Regions from separate parts of the Homo sapiens genome. Here region 1 is linked to region 2. A link means that fine-mapping ties the variant in region 2 to the expression of a gene that starts in the linked region. Tissue or cell type: T cells. Region 2 holds a variant in brackets; the other region holds the start of a gene. All regions are shown on one strand. Distances are between the middles of the regions.

The links. PIP is the estimated chance that this variant, and not a neighbour inherited with it, causes the effect.
Region 1: it holds the start of LASP1NB, and the variant in region 2 is fine-mapped to the expression of LASP1NB in T cells (TOPMed, PIP 0.97).

The regions. Positions count from the first base shown.
Region 1 is chr17:38,922,442-38,928,496 of GRCh38, forward strand. LASP1NB (LASP1 neighbor) reads left to right here and starts at 3,173. Exons shown (of 2, transcript NM_001414697.1): 1 at 3,173-3,450; 2 at 3,976-6,055. The coding sequence starts at 3,253. The coding sequence ends at 3,330. RefSeq lists an enhancer at 1-168.
Region 2 is chr17:38,891,666-38,897,720 of GRCh38, forward strand. All of the region lies in intron 3 of LASP1 (LIM and SH3 protein 1), which reads left to right. Among named protein-coding and RNA genes, the nearest start is that of MIR6779, 20 kb to the right of the region's middle. RefSeq lists enhancers at 1,235-1,808, 3,895-4,416, 4,417-4,938, 4,939-5,460. The variant A/G (reference allele first, on the strand shown) is at 2,681.

The DNA.
Region 1 (6,055 bases), 31 kb after region 2:
GAATGTAATCTTTAATACACATCCCCTTTCTTCCTTCTTCCTCACAACCCTGTGAGAGAAGTAACTACTTATAGAGGGGCTCACTGAAACCCAGAAAGGCAAAGCAGATTGGTGGCAGTCACAGCTAGTGGCAGAGTGGGGCCTGAGACCCCCATGTGATGCTCACAGTCTGGTGCTGTGCCACCCGGCCATGGCAGGCCGCGTGCCTGTGTCTGTGGCAGCTCTTAGATGTGTGTCTCCTGGGCTCCATGTTTTGCTCCAGGTGCCCAGGGTCTGTGACTGGCCAGAAGGCCAGGCGGCCTCCCCTCTTGCTCATTGGGCTTGGGAAGAGGACAGTGGTAGAGAGGGGAATCTGGCCCTGCTCAGTGCTGCCAATCAGCCTCAGGTCCAGCTGCTTGAGGGGCATTTCTCTCTTGGGGCTCAGAACTAAGGAATTCTCCAGCCTCAGAATCACAGCAGGGTGGAGAGGAGGAGGGCTCTCCTGAGCTGAGCATTTGTAATCTGGAGAATGACATGGCCAGAGTCAGCTGAGCTGGGGCAATGTGGGGAGCATCCAAGGCTGCCCTGGGTGGTATAATTAGAGACAGCACTGACACCTGCTCCCCTCCAGGGGTGCAGGCAGCCCAATACTTTCCCAATAGAAGGGAATTAGTTGGCAAAGCTTGCCTCATGTCGGCCTGCCCCACTCCCCGGGAGGCTTCATTCACCTTCAGATCTATTTGATGGAACAGTGCTTTGGGGGACATTGCTGCCAAGTCTCCACTCCCTGCTCACAGAAAGCTCTGCCTCCTGGAAATGGGCCAATGGGAGGAGTTTCTGGATTTCCTTCTGGCAGTGGCCTAAGTTCCTGAGGTCTTGCATTATGAGGGGGTTACCAATATATCTTAACCCCAGGCCTTTAAAAAAAATATTATTTGGGGTGGGGGCCAAGGAGACTAGGCCTCAGAGACGTCCTAGGGAATGATTTAATTTAATAGAAAATAATTGAGGCTTATAAAAAGGCACAAAAATCCTGGCTAACACAGTGAAACCCCGTCTATACTAAAAATACAAAAAATAAGCTGGGCGCGGTGGCGGGTGCCTGTAGTCCCAGCTACTCGGGAGGCTGAGGCAGGAGAATGGCGTGAACCCGGGAGGCAGAGCTTGCACTGAGCTGAGATCGTGCCACTGCACTCCAGCCTGGGTGACAGAGCAAGACTCCGTCTAAGAATAAATAAATAAATAAATAAATAAATAAATAAATAAATAAATAAAAAGAATAAAATAATTCTCTTTTCCCCCTCAGAAGAAACCACTTGAATTTTTTAAATTTCAGGGATACCCCTGGGGAATTCTTCAGTGTCCTCTCTGTGTACAACACTATGCTGAGCTTTTGGAAGAGGATACCAAAGAAAACAAAACTAGGCCGGGTGCGGTGGTTCACACCTGCAATCCCAGCACTTTGGGAGGCTGAGGTGGGAGGATCGCTTGAGTCCAGGAGTTTGAGACCAGCCTGGGCAAAATGGCAAGACCCCGTCTCTATAAAAAAAGAAAGAAGGAAAACAAAACAGTGGGTAATGACTGCAAAGAGACGAAGGAGTGGGTGGAGGAGGGGTCTCTGGTGCTCGTCCTGTAGGTGGATCGATGTGAAAGCAGTCCACTGCAAGCTGAGCAGTGCACGTGGGGTGTAGGGGCCTTCCGGACCAACAGGGGGAGCAGTGTGGCGCAAGAGGAAGAATATGGACTTTGGTGTCAGCATGCCTAGTTTTGAATCCTGGTCTCTGACATTTTTAATTAATTAATTAATTATTTTGAGACGGAGTTTCACTCTTGTTGCCCAGGCTGGAGTGCAATGGCACAATCTCAGCTCACTGCAACCTCCACCTCCCAGGTTCAAGCGATTCTCCTGCCTCAGCCTCCTGAGTAGCTGGGATTACAGGCATGTGCCACCATGCCCAGCTAATTTTGTATTTTTAGTAGAGCTGGAGTTTCTCCATGTTGGTCAGGCTGGTCTTGAACTCCTGACCTCAGGTGATTCACCTACCTCAGCCTCCCAAAGTGTTGGGATTACAGGCATGAGCCACCACACCCAGCCTTTTACTTTTTATTTTATTTATTAATTTATTTATTTTTGAGACGGAGTCTCGCTCTGTCACCCAGGCTGGAGTGCAATGGCACGGTCTCAGCTCACTGCGACCTCTGCCTGCCGGGTTCAAGCAATTCTTTAGCCTCAGCCTCTTGAATAGCTGGGATAACAGGCACCTGCCACCACGCCCGGCTAATTTTTATTTTTATTTTTTTTTTGAGACAGAATCTTGCTCTGTAGCCCAGGCTGGGGTGCAGTGGCGCGATCTCAGCTCTGCCTCCCGGGTTCAAGCAATTCTCTGCCTCAGCCTCCCAAGTAGCTGGGATTACAGGCATGCACCACCAAGCCTGGCTAACTTTTGTATTTTTAGTAGAGACAGGGTTTCACCATCTTGGCCAGGCTGGTCTTGAACTCCTGACCTTGTGATCCACCTGCCTCGGCCTCCCAAAGTGCTGGGATTATAGGCATGAGCCACTGCGCCCGGCTGGTCTCTGACACATCTAAGCTATGAACCATTAGGGTAAGTTTCTGACCATCTCTGAGCCCCATCTATGAAAGACTCATAGGGAGGTTGAAATTGCACCACATGTACGATATCTGGCCCAGTGTAGGAAATGTATAAATGTTAGCTTCATCCCTCAGGGAAGCCCACTGAGATCCACACGAAACTTTTGTCTGTGTCTCCCCATAATGTGACCTTTAGAAGTTGCCAATGGCCCACCCAATACCCAACCATGATTTTTCTGAGATAATCTGCCCGAGGTGTGTGAGAGGAAACGCGAAGAAGGCAGTCAGGAGGATTCACTCTTGGGGGAGCTGGGTAGGATCCTATCTCCTCCTACATCCAGAGCATGCAGGCTCCATTTAGATACAAAGGGGTGGGATTGGGTTCCTGGGGAGAAATTGAGCCCCTTTGATTCTGCGGTTCTGTGGGTCTAAATCTGGCATCTCCTTGGCTATCCACCCCCAGGCTTTGTGATTGGTTGGCTGTGGTTGGTGGGGGGGCAGGAAGCTGCTGGTGGAGCTGCAGCATCCTTCAGTCTCAGGCCCCTGGGAGGGGGAGGGGAAAGAACCAGGGCTGAGCTGTGGAGTGAAGGGGAGCCATTTCTCTCCACCGACTGCAACCTCCGTGCTCACAGCTCACGGTTCACCAGAATCCAGGGGCTTGGTCGGCCTAGGAATCCACAATGCTGGATATTTTCATCCTGATGTTCTTTGCCATCATAGGCCTGGTCATTCTGTCCTACATTATCTATCTGCTCTAGTGGCCTGGAGCTGCGGCCGGAGCCTGCTGGAGAACAGCTCAGAAGGAAGGATGGAGATGAATGGCCGAGTGCCCTGCTTGCTGACGCACCGGTGGATTTTTGCTTCTGCTGTTATCTCGGGTATTGATTCCAAAAAAAAAAGAAAAGAAAAAAAGAAAGAGTTTGCTTTCCTATTTTTTTTCTTAGACCACTCTGAAAAGAATAAGAAATGCCAGCTTCTTTCTTTGGGACCTAATTTAAAATAAGACTTTAAAAATTACAAATAAAATCCACAATGTAAACGATTTTTAGGCAGAACGGGTTGGGAATGATGGATGTGGTGGGGAGGGACTATTATTTCCTAATTTCTTCTTCAAGTTAGGTGCTCAAACTCAAGTTGTCTATTTTCTTCTGGTAATTAAAGGTAAAACACATCTTTGCATGTCAGCATACTTGCAATATAGTTGTTTACAACTATGCTTGTATAATTGCATTACTTAATGATTGACTCATTCTTATTTGAGGGTGAGACGGCAAATAAATTTTACTTGGGGTGGGGTTTTCGGGGAGATGTCCAACTGTGGGATATGGTGGAGAGGAGGGAGGAACTCCTGGTACTTTGCAGTTGTCCCCATCTGAGACTTTTTATTTCTGGGTTTCTTACAGCTCCTGGTCTCTCCAGTCCAACAAGAGGCCTCTCATCCACAGAAGCAGTCCTACTGCCCAGCAGACCTCTTTCAGAGCCTTCCAGACATGGCTGACCCCTGGCAAGCAAGGGGCTTTTTGAGCTGAGAGGCACTTGGCTGGGACTTCAGGAATTCATGGACAGGGCTGGCAGATACTGCATATGTTTGAGCTGTAGATGGGATTGAGAACAGAAAGTTGAAATGGAGACTTATTAAAGTTACCGTGGAGAACTGCTCAAAAATTCATTTTGAATTAAGGAAACTTAAATTCATTTTAAGTTTCCTTAGATCTAAATGCAACTGCACATTACACTCAAATATGTTCCTTCCTTCTCACACACAGGACTCCCTTGTGAAACTCAAGGGGAAGTTCAAGTTGTCCATCTTCATCTATGAAGTAGTCACTTTATCACTGTCTTTACAGATTGCACAGTCTGGGGTTTTGTGGTTTCTCTTGTCTCACTCTCCAGCCAGGAAGAACTTGTCATTTGAGTTTTTAAAATGTATCATTTCTTCCCCACCTCAAACCACTTGTATCCCAGTTTCTCATTTAAAGGGAGAAATGGTTATATAGTCCTCTCTTTGCACCTGATTGAATTATAAATGATAGAAACAAGATGGCTATACTTATTTAGGAAAAATCTCTTACCCCAAAATGAGTGTGTGTGTGTGTGTGTGTGTGCGTGTGTGTGTGTGTGTGTGTTTTAATCAAAGATCTTTTCTGGAAAAAACTTTCCACATAGTTCTCTGACCCATTAGAGTTGAAGAAACTATGTATTTTGGGATTCAGAGTAGAATTGGCCTGCAAATCTGGGGTGTTTATTCCTTTTACAAGTCTATCATAATTGTTCTACATTTAATTTTCCTTTCTTGCTTAAAAGTAAACAAGGAGAGTCAGGAGTGGTGGCTCATGCCTGTAATCCCAGCACTCTGGGAGGCCGAGGCGGATGGATCACCTGAGGTCAGGAGTTGGAGACCAGCCTGGCCAACACGGTGAAACCCCGTCTCTACTAAAAATACAAAAATTAGTCAGGCACAGTAGTGCGCGCCTGTAGTCCCAGCTACCCGGGAGGCTGAGGCCGAAGAATTGCTTGAACCCGGGAGGCAGAGGTTGTAGTGAGCCGACATCATGTCACTGCACTCCAGCCTGGGAGACATAGCGAGATTCCGTCTCAAATAAAATAAAATAAATAAATAAATAAACAAGGAGAAAGATTAGTTTTTAGTAATAACATTGTGTCCAATTTCCATGTTTTAAAACAAAAATTGAGGCATTATATGTCACAACTGAAATGGAAAAGTTGTGTTTAAAAATTATGGACAAGGCCGGGCACGGTGGCTCACGCCTGGAATCCCAGCACTTTGGGAGGCTCAGGCAGGAGGATCACTTGAGGTCGGGAGTTTGAGACCAGTCTGACCAACGTGGTGAAACCCTGTCTCTACTAAAAATACAAAAATTAGCTGGTGTGGTGGCAGGTGCCTGTAATCCCAGCTACTCAGGAGGCTGAGGCAGGAGAATCGCTTGAACCTGGGAGGCAGAGGTTGCAGTGAGCCGAGATCACACCTCTGCACTCCAGCCTAGGTGACACAGCAAGACCCCATCTCAAAAAAAAATAATAATAAAAACATAAAAATTATGGACAAGAAAAAACACTATTCTGGAAGCTTTGTTTTGGCAACAAATTATATGACCTGACCTTTCATAAGTCATTTAAACTTTAGGGCTAGGCCAGGTGCTATGGCGCATGCCTATAATCCCAGCATTTAGGGAAGTAGAAGCAGGAGGATAGCTTGAGGCCAAGAATTCCAGACCAGCCCAGGCAATATAGCGAGACCCCCGTCTCCACAAAAATAAAAAATAAAATAAAAATAAATAAATACATAAACTTTAGGTCCTCTGTTTATTCTGTCAAATGAAAGTGTTAGGCCAAGGTCGCATTATCTCTTTGGAAACTACATCGAGAACAGAATTCCCATGGAACGAACTCTTAATAGTTCACTGGTAGTCCCCCTTTTCTGAATATTCTTCCCAACATGACACTTTATAACAAAAATTTAAC
Region 2 (6,055 bases):
CTTCACTTCAGAGAAGAGGAAATAGACACTGGCAGCTTTGAATGTAGGTTTGTCTAACCCAGGGACTATCCACTCCCCAAGAAACAGTCTCTACCTTAATAATAAACATGATAGTTCCTTATGCTGTTGAGAAGTTTTGTAGTTTAGGGCTGGGAGCCATGGCTCACGCCTGTAATCCCTGTGCTCTGGGAGGCCAAGGTAAGAGGATCACTTGAGCCCAGGAGTTCGAGACCAGCTGGGGCAACATAGCAATACCTGGTCCCTAAAAAAAAAAACGAGCAGAGATGGTGGTGTGCACCTGTGGTCGTAGCTACTTGGGAGTTTGAGGCGGGAGTATCACTTGAGCTGAGGAGTTGGAGGCTGCAGTGAGCCATGATCGCACCACTACACTCCAGCCTGGGTGATGGGGTGAGACCCTGTCTCTAAAAAAAGGAAAAGCAAGAAATTGTGTAGTTCAGCAAGTGCCTTTAGTTAGTTCCCCTGTTTATCCTTGACTGGGTTCTGGGAGAAGGTAAAAGACCCAGCGTCTCTGTCTTACAGATAGGGGAACCGAGTGAGTGAATGCGGATCCAGGATTTGGGCCCTGGTCTTGTCACTCCCAAGTCTGGGGCCCTTGATGCTGCACAGCCCTGGTAGGGCCTGAGGCTCACAGAGGAAGAGAGCAGCAGCTCACACCTGCCACCCACCCACCTGCGGCACAGAAGCTGAAGTTACTAGGAAGCAGGGAACACCACAGCCTGCCTGGCCATATTTTACAGATTCTAGCCAGGCCCTGACTCCTGCCTTCAATTCCCTGCCCTGTGGAAGGGCCATGGGGGCCAGAGGTGGAGGGGCTCAGAAGGACCTCGGAGAAGAGGTGCTGGGAGCAGATAGCAGGTCTTTGGAGACACACACACACACACACACACACACACACACACACACACCCTTCTCAGGGGAGAAATTCAAACCCCTCAGCCTTTGTCAGTTCCACAAAAGCGTGGCTGCAGCTCTTTTTGCCCCGGCACCCTATCCCCGAGGGGTGGGGTTTGAGGAGGAAGCACCTCCACGTTGTTCCCCCTGCCCAGGATGGGCAGCAAGTGGGCAGGGCATGCTGTTGGCAGGGGCTGCTTCTGCCCCCCACAGGGGAAGCCAGCACCACGCTCTGGGTTTGGGGGCTCCTGTCCCTGGCCTGTGCCCCCTGCTTCCCAGGGTCATAGCCTGCTGGGTTCCCGGGGGGGCCTCTTGGGAGATGAAAATGGCGGTCACTCTTCATTAGGGCCTCACTGAGGGCCAGAGCGTGTCCGTGTGTGTATGTGTGTGTGTGTGCGTGTGCACGCATGCACGCGTGTATGTGTGTGTGTGTGTGTGCAAGCATGCACGCATGTATGCGTGTATGCCTGACTTTGTTTAATCCTTACAGCCACCTGATGAAAGAGGGGCTCTTATTATCCCCATCATACAGATAGGGAAACTGAGGTTTACAGAGGCTGCCCTGCTTGTGCAGAGCCCAGGGACAGGGGCAGACATCAAGTCCCATGACCTGGCCCTGGAGCCCGTTGCTCTGAACAGTGCTGATGGCACAGGCACCGAGCCCTGTGCTCCCACCCTGCAGGATGCACCAGTCAGCAGCAAGTAGGATGGGCTTGTTGGAATGCAGATTCCTAGGCCCCACCCAAGGGACTTCTGCTTGGCAGCTCTGGGTGAGGCCCAAGAATCTGCATTTTGACTCCCCCGTGATTCTGATAAGGACTTTTGGCCCCACTTTAAGAAGCTTAGAGATGGGTCCATGGGCAGGAGTGTACCGACCCTGTTTGTATGCTCTGAGGGGTGCCACATTAGGGTAGGGCTTTGCACTAAGGGCACGGCTCTGTTCCCCTGAGGTGGGGGTCCTCGGGGGTTGGGGGCTGAGGGCAGGATAGGCAGGGGAGGAAAGGGTACTGCCCTTTTTGCAGGCCTGTTCTGTCTCCCTTCCCACCGCCCACCAGCTGTGTGGTCTGAGACTGGCCTCAGACTGTCTTTCCTCTCATAGCTTTGCTTCCTCACCAGTAAAATGAGGACAGCAAACCCAGTTGCCTCAAGCTGGGGGCTGGGCCTGATGCTTTGAGGCTTGGAAGGGCTGAGCCGGCCAGGCTGGAGCAGTGACGGGTTCTGGTTCCTGTGGCTGCCGTGGGGGCAGAGCTGGAGAGAGCTGCCTGCGGCTAGCAGGAAGGGAAGGGGGAGCCTCTTCTGCTCACCCAGCTTCACCCCACGGGGTCAGCTGGCTTCTCTCCATGCCCCTTCTGGGCCTGCCTTGCCCTTCCCTGTCTCTGGGAAGCTGCCCAGGCTATTTCAGCTTTATTTATTTTCCCATCTCTATATTGGTCTCCAAAATGGCACTTTGGGTGTCTGGGACACCTGGAGCCTCCCCTGTGGAGGAGGTAACCACAGAACTGTCCAGAAATGACCCTCTCGGTGGTCCTGCCCAGGCCTGGCTGAGGCAGGGGGCTGGCAGCTGGACCCCCAGCCCCCCTTCTCACTTGCTGCTCCTATCCCACCCCCAGGCTGAGCAGAGGCAGTGGCTTTGGGGTGGGACTGAGCTGGAGGTGTCTGTATGGCCCTGAGCCCAGGCAGAAGTGCCAAGTGCCAGTAGACTGTTCTTCCATTTTTTCCTTCATCAACTCACCTTGATGGGGTCATGGGAAATTACAGGGGGGTTTCT[A/G]TCCTCCTCGGATCTTGTAAGCAGCACGGGTGGTAGAGTATCACTCTTACCCGAACTAGCTGGCCTGAGATTGAATCTCGCATCTGCTGCCACCAGCTGTGTGACCTTGGGCAAGTTGCTTAACCTCTGTGCACAGTGCCTTCGTCTGAATAATGTGGATTACCTCTCTCCAGAGGGTGGTGTGAGATAGGAGGATATGTTAAGCATTTAAAGATTCCTGACGTGGAGTCAGCATTCAGTGTTTGCTACTACTGTTCTCCCGGAAAGGAGAGGAAATGGAACTTGGACATGAAGAAGCTGGGAAATACACACAGCAACCTTTTGACCATGACTTCCAGCCCCGGCCCTTTCCATCAGCTCTCCTCTCCATCTGTGTGTGTCTAATTTTTTTTTTAAATTTGTATTTTTTTGAGACAGGGTCTCTCTCTGTCTCCCAGGCTGGAATGCAGTGGCGTGATCTTGGCTCATTGCAGCCTTGACTTCCCAGACTCAAGCGATTTTCTCGCCTCCACCTCCTGAATAGCTGGGACTACAGGCGTGCATCACCATGCCCGGCTAATTTTTGTATTTTTAGTAGAGACAGGGTTTCGTCATGTTGCCCAGGCTTGTTTCAAACTCCTGACCTCAAGTGATCTGCCCACCTCAGCCTCCCAAAGTGCTGGGATTACAGGTGTCAGCCACCGCGCCCTGCCTAAATTTTAAAAACTAGTGTTTCTTTTTTGTTAGAAGGGGATGGGTTACAAAGTATGTTGGCCCAACACATGGTAGGCACATAATAGTGGAAATTGTATTTCGCTCAATAAATTTTGTATTTTTTTAGAGATTTTTATTAATTTTTTTTTTTTTTAAATAGAGATGGGGTACTATGTTCCCAGGCTGGTCTCGAACTCCTGGGCTCGAGTGATCCACCTGTCTTGGCCTCCTAGACTGCTGGGATTACAGACATGAGCCATTTTGTTTTTTAAGTCCAGCCTAATTTTTGTGTTTTTTTTTTAGACGGAGTTTTACTCTGTCGCCCAGCCTGGAGTACAGTGTCACCATCTCAGCTCACTGCAACCTCCGGCTCCCAGGTTCAAGGAATTCTCCTGCCTCAGCCTCCCAAGTAGCTGGGATTACGCCCACCACGCCCGGCTAACTTTTTTTGTATTTTTTTTAGTAGAGATGGGGTTTCAGCATGTTAGGCTGGTCATGAACTCCTGACCTCAGGTGATCCACCCACCTCTGCCTCCCAAAGTGGTGGGATTACAGGCGTGAGCCACCGTGCCTGGCATAATTTTTGTTTTTAAGTAATGATCCTTCTTCTTATATTGGGTCATCAAGGCAGTTGTTTTCCCAATTATGCTGCTTTGTTTGGAGATTACGTGTCTGCATTCAATTCATTCATGATCCAACAAATGTTGATCTGCACCTCCTGTCTGCTGGGATGAGAAGCAAGATAGATCCAGGGAGAACAACTAAGAACTGACAGAAAAATTAGAGTTTCACGGATGGTGGTTGTTTGGGTGTCAGGAGCCTCAGATGTCAGTCAGTCCTGGGCCTGACAGCAGAGTTTCCAAAATGGGAGCCCAGGTATCTCCCAGGAGTGGGGTCCTCTGGGAGCCCAGGCATCTCCCAGAAGTGGGGTCCTCTGACCGAAGCGCTGAGTTGCATCCTGGCCTGAGCGACAACTGGGTTGTGACCTTGGGCAGGTCCCTTCCTCCACAGGGACCCCCACAGCACCCTGGTGAGCCATCCTAGACAACAGGGGCAAGCACTCCTGCCAGGGCAAGAAGGGAGCCCTGAAGAGGGGCTCTGGGCTGGGCCCTCCCTACACCCCTGGCCCCCCACCCTTCACTTCTGCCACCCCTTCCATACCCAAAGACCTTTCAAAGAGCCTCCCTGTCTTGATTATCCATAGTCAGGGTCTGAAGGTGCTTTAAAATGGTCACAGACTCCAAATGGGAGGGATTTTAGAGATCAGCTAGCCAGCTCCCTTCAGGGGACCCAGAGAGGGGAACTGACTTGCTTAGAAACACACAGCAAGGTGGTGCTGATCCCAGGCTCCCTCCCTTCTCAGCCCCTACCCCTCACCCCTACCCTCTGTGGGCCTCCTATGTTAGCAGTGAAATGAATGATCCTTCCCCAACAGGGAGGGGGAGGCAGAAGCAGTTCCCGATCCTGGGAACCTGCTGATGTCATTGCAGCGTCGCCATGGCGATTATTCCCCTGGATTAGGGGCCTGACCCTTGCAAAGCCAGGAAGCAGGGGACGGAGTGGGGGACTGGCACTCGTTCAGCACTTCATTGCTGACAGAGCACTTTCACACTGGCCCTCCACAGTGCGCTGCTGCTTTAGAGCCACTGTCTGTATCGTGGGTTGGAGTGACTGGCGTTATGGTCCCCATTTTACAGATGTGGGAACTGAGTCTTGAGATGTGAAGTCGTTGGCCCAAGATCACTCAGAAGTGGGAGACTGAGCCTGCGTTAGTGCTAGCTCCGCCTGGCTTTGTGCCCAGACTTGGTGATAAGAAGCCCCCTCCCCATATTATACCTGATTTCTGTCACAACTCTTTTACAGATGAAGAAACCGAGGCCAGGGGCTTGAGATGCAGGGCTTCTGTATCTGGAGCTACATTTCTCTGCCTCTGAGTGCCCTACCTTCCCCGATGCCCGCTTCCCAAAGGGCCTCCCACTAAGAGTCACCGTGCTGGCCCAGGGCTTCCAGGACTGAGGAAGAGCTGGTGCTAGGCAGGTTCTGGACTCTTGGGGTGGGTTGGTGCCTCTATCCACTGCATTCACTTCTGAACTAATGGGGAACAGCACATCCAAGCCCTTCTTGTCTGGATCAGAACAGAGAAGGAGAGGGAACCACATGGATGAGTGACTGGGGGCTTCAGGAGACAAACAAGGACTCTGACCCCCACAGGCATGTGCAGAGGACCTGACAGGTGTGGCCGTGGCTGCATGCGCATGCGCAGTCGCTCCAGTCCAAGCACAGCTCGGTGCTGCTGCCAGATGATTCCCTGCCAGGGAACTGCCTGGGTTTGTGTCCTGGGCTGACCTGTGTCCAGGACAGTGCAGCCCCCGTGGAGGAAATCCAAGCAGCTGGTGGGGTCTGGAACAGATGGCTGATGAGGTGGACAGTGAAGTCTCTGGAAGCCAAGGAATAGTTTCCTGTTCCATGAGTTTTCTCAGCCTCATTCTGTTCTTCAAAACCCTCAGGGGAGGACAAGCTGTTCCTCATATTTCAATTCCTTTCGTGCCAGGGAAGTCCTTTCTGATGTCTGACTTGAGTCCCTCTAGTACTGTGGTGGGGTGGAAGGGTTCTTCCCTGGAGCTTGGAGACCTGCTGAGATGCTGTCTGACCCCCGCTGCTTTCCTCCCCTCCTATGGCGGT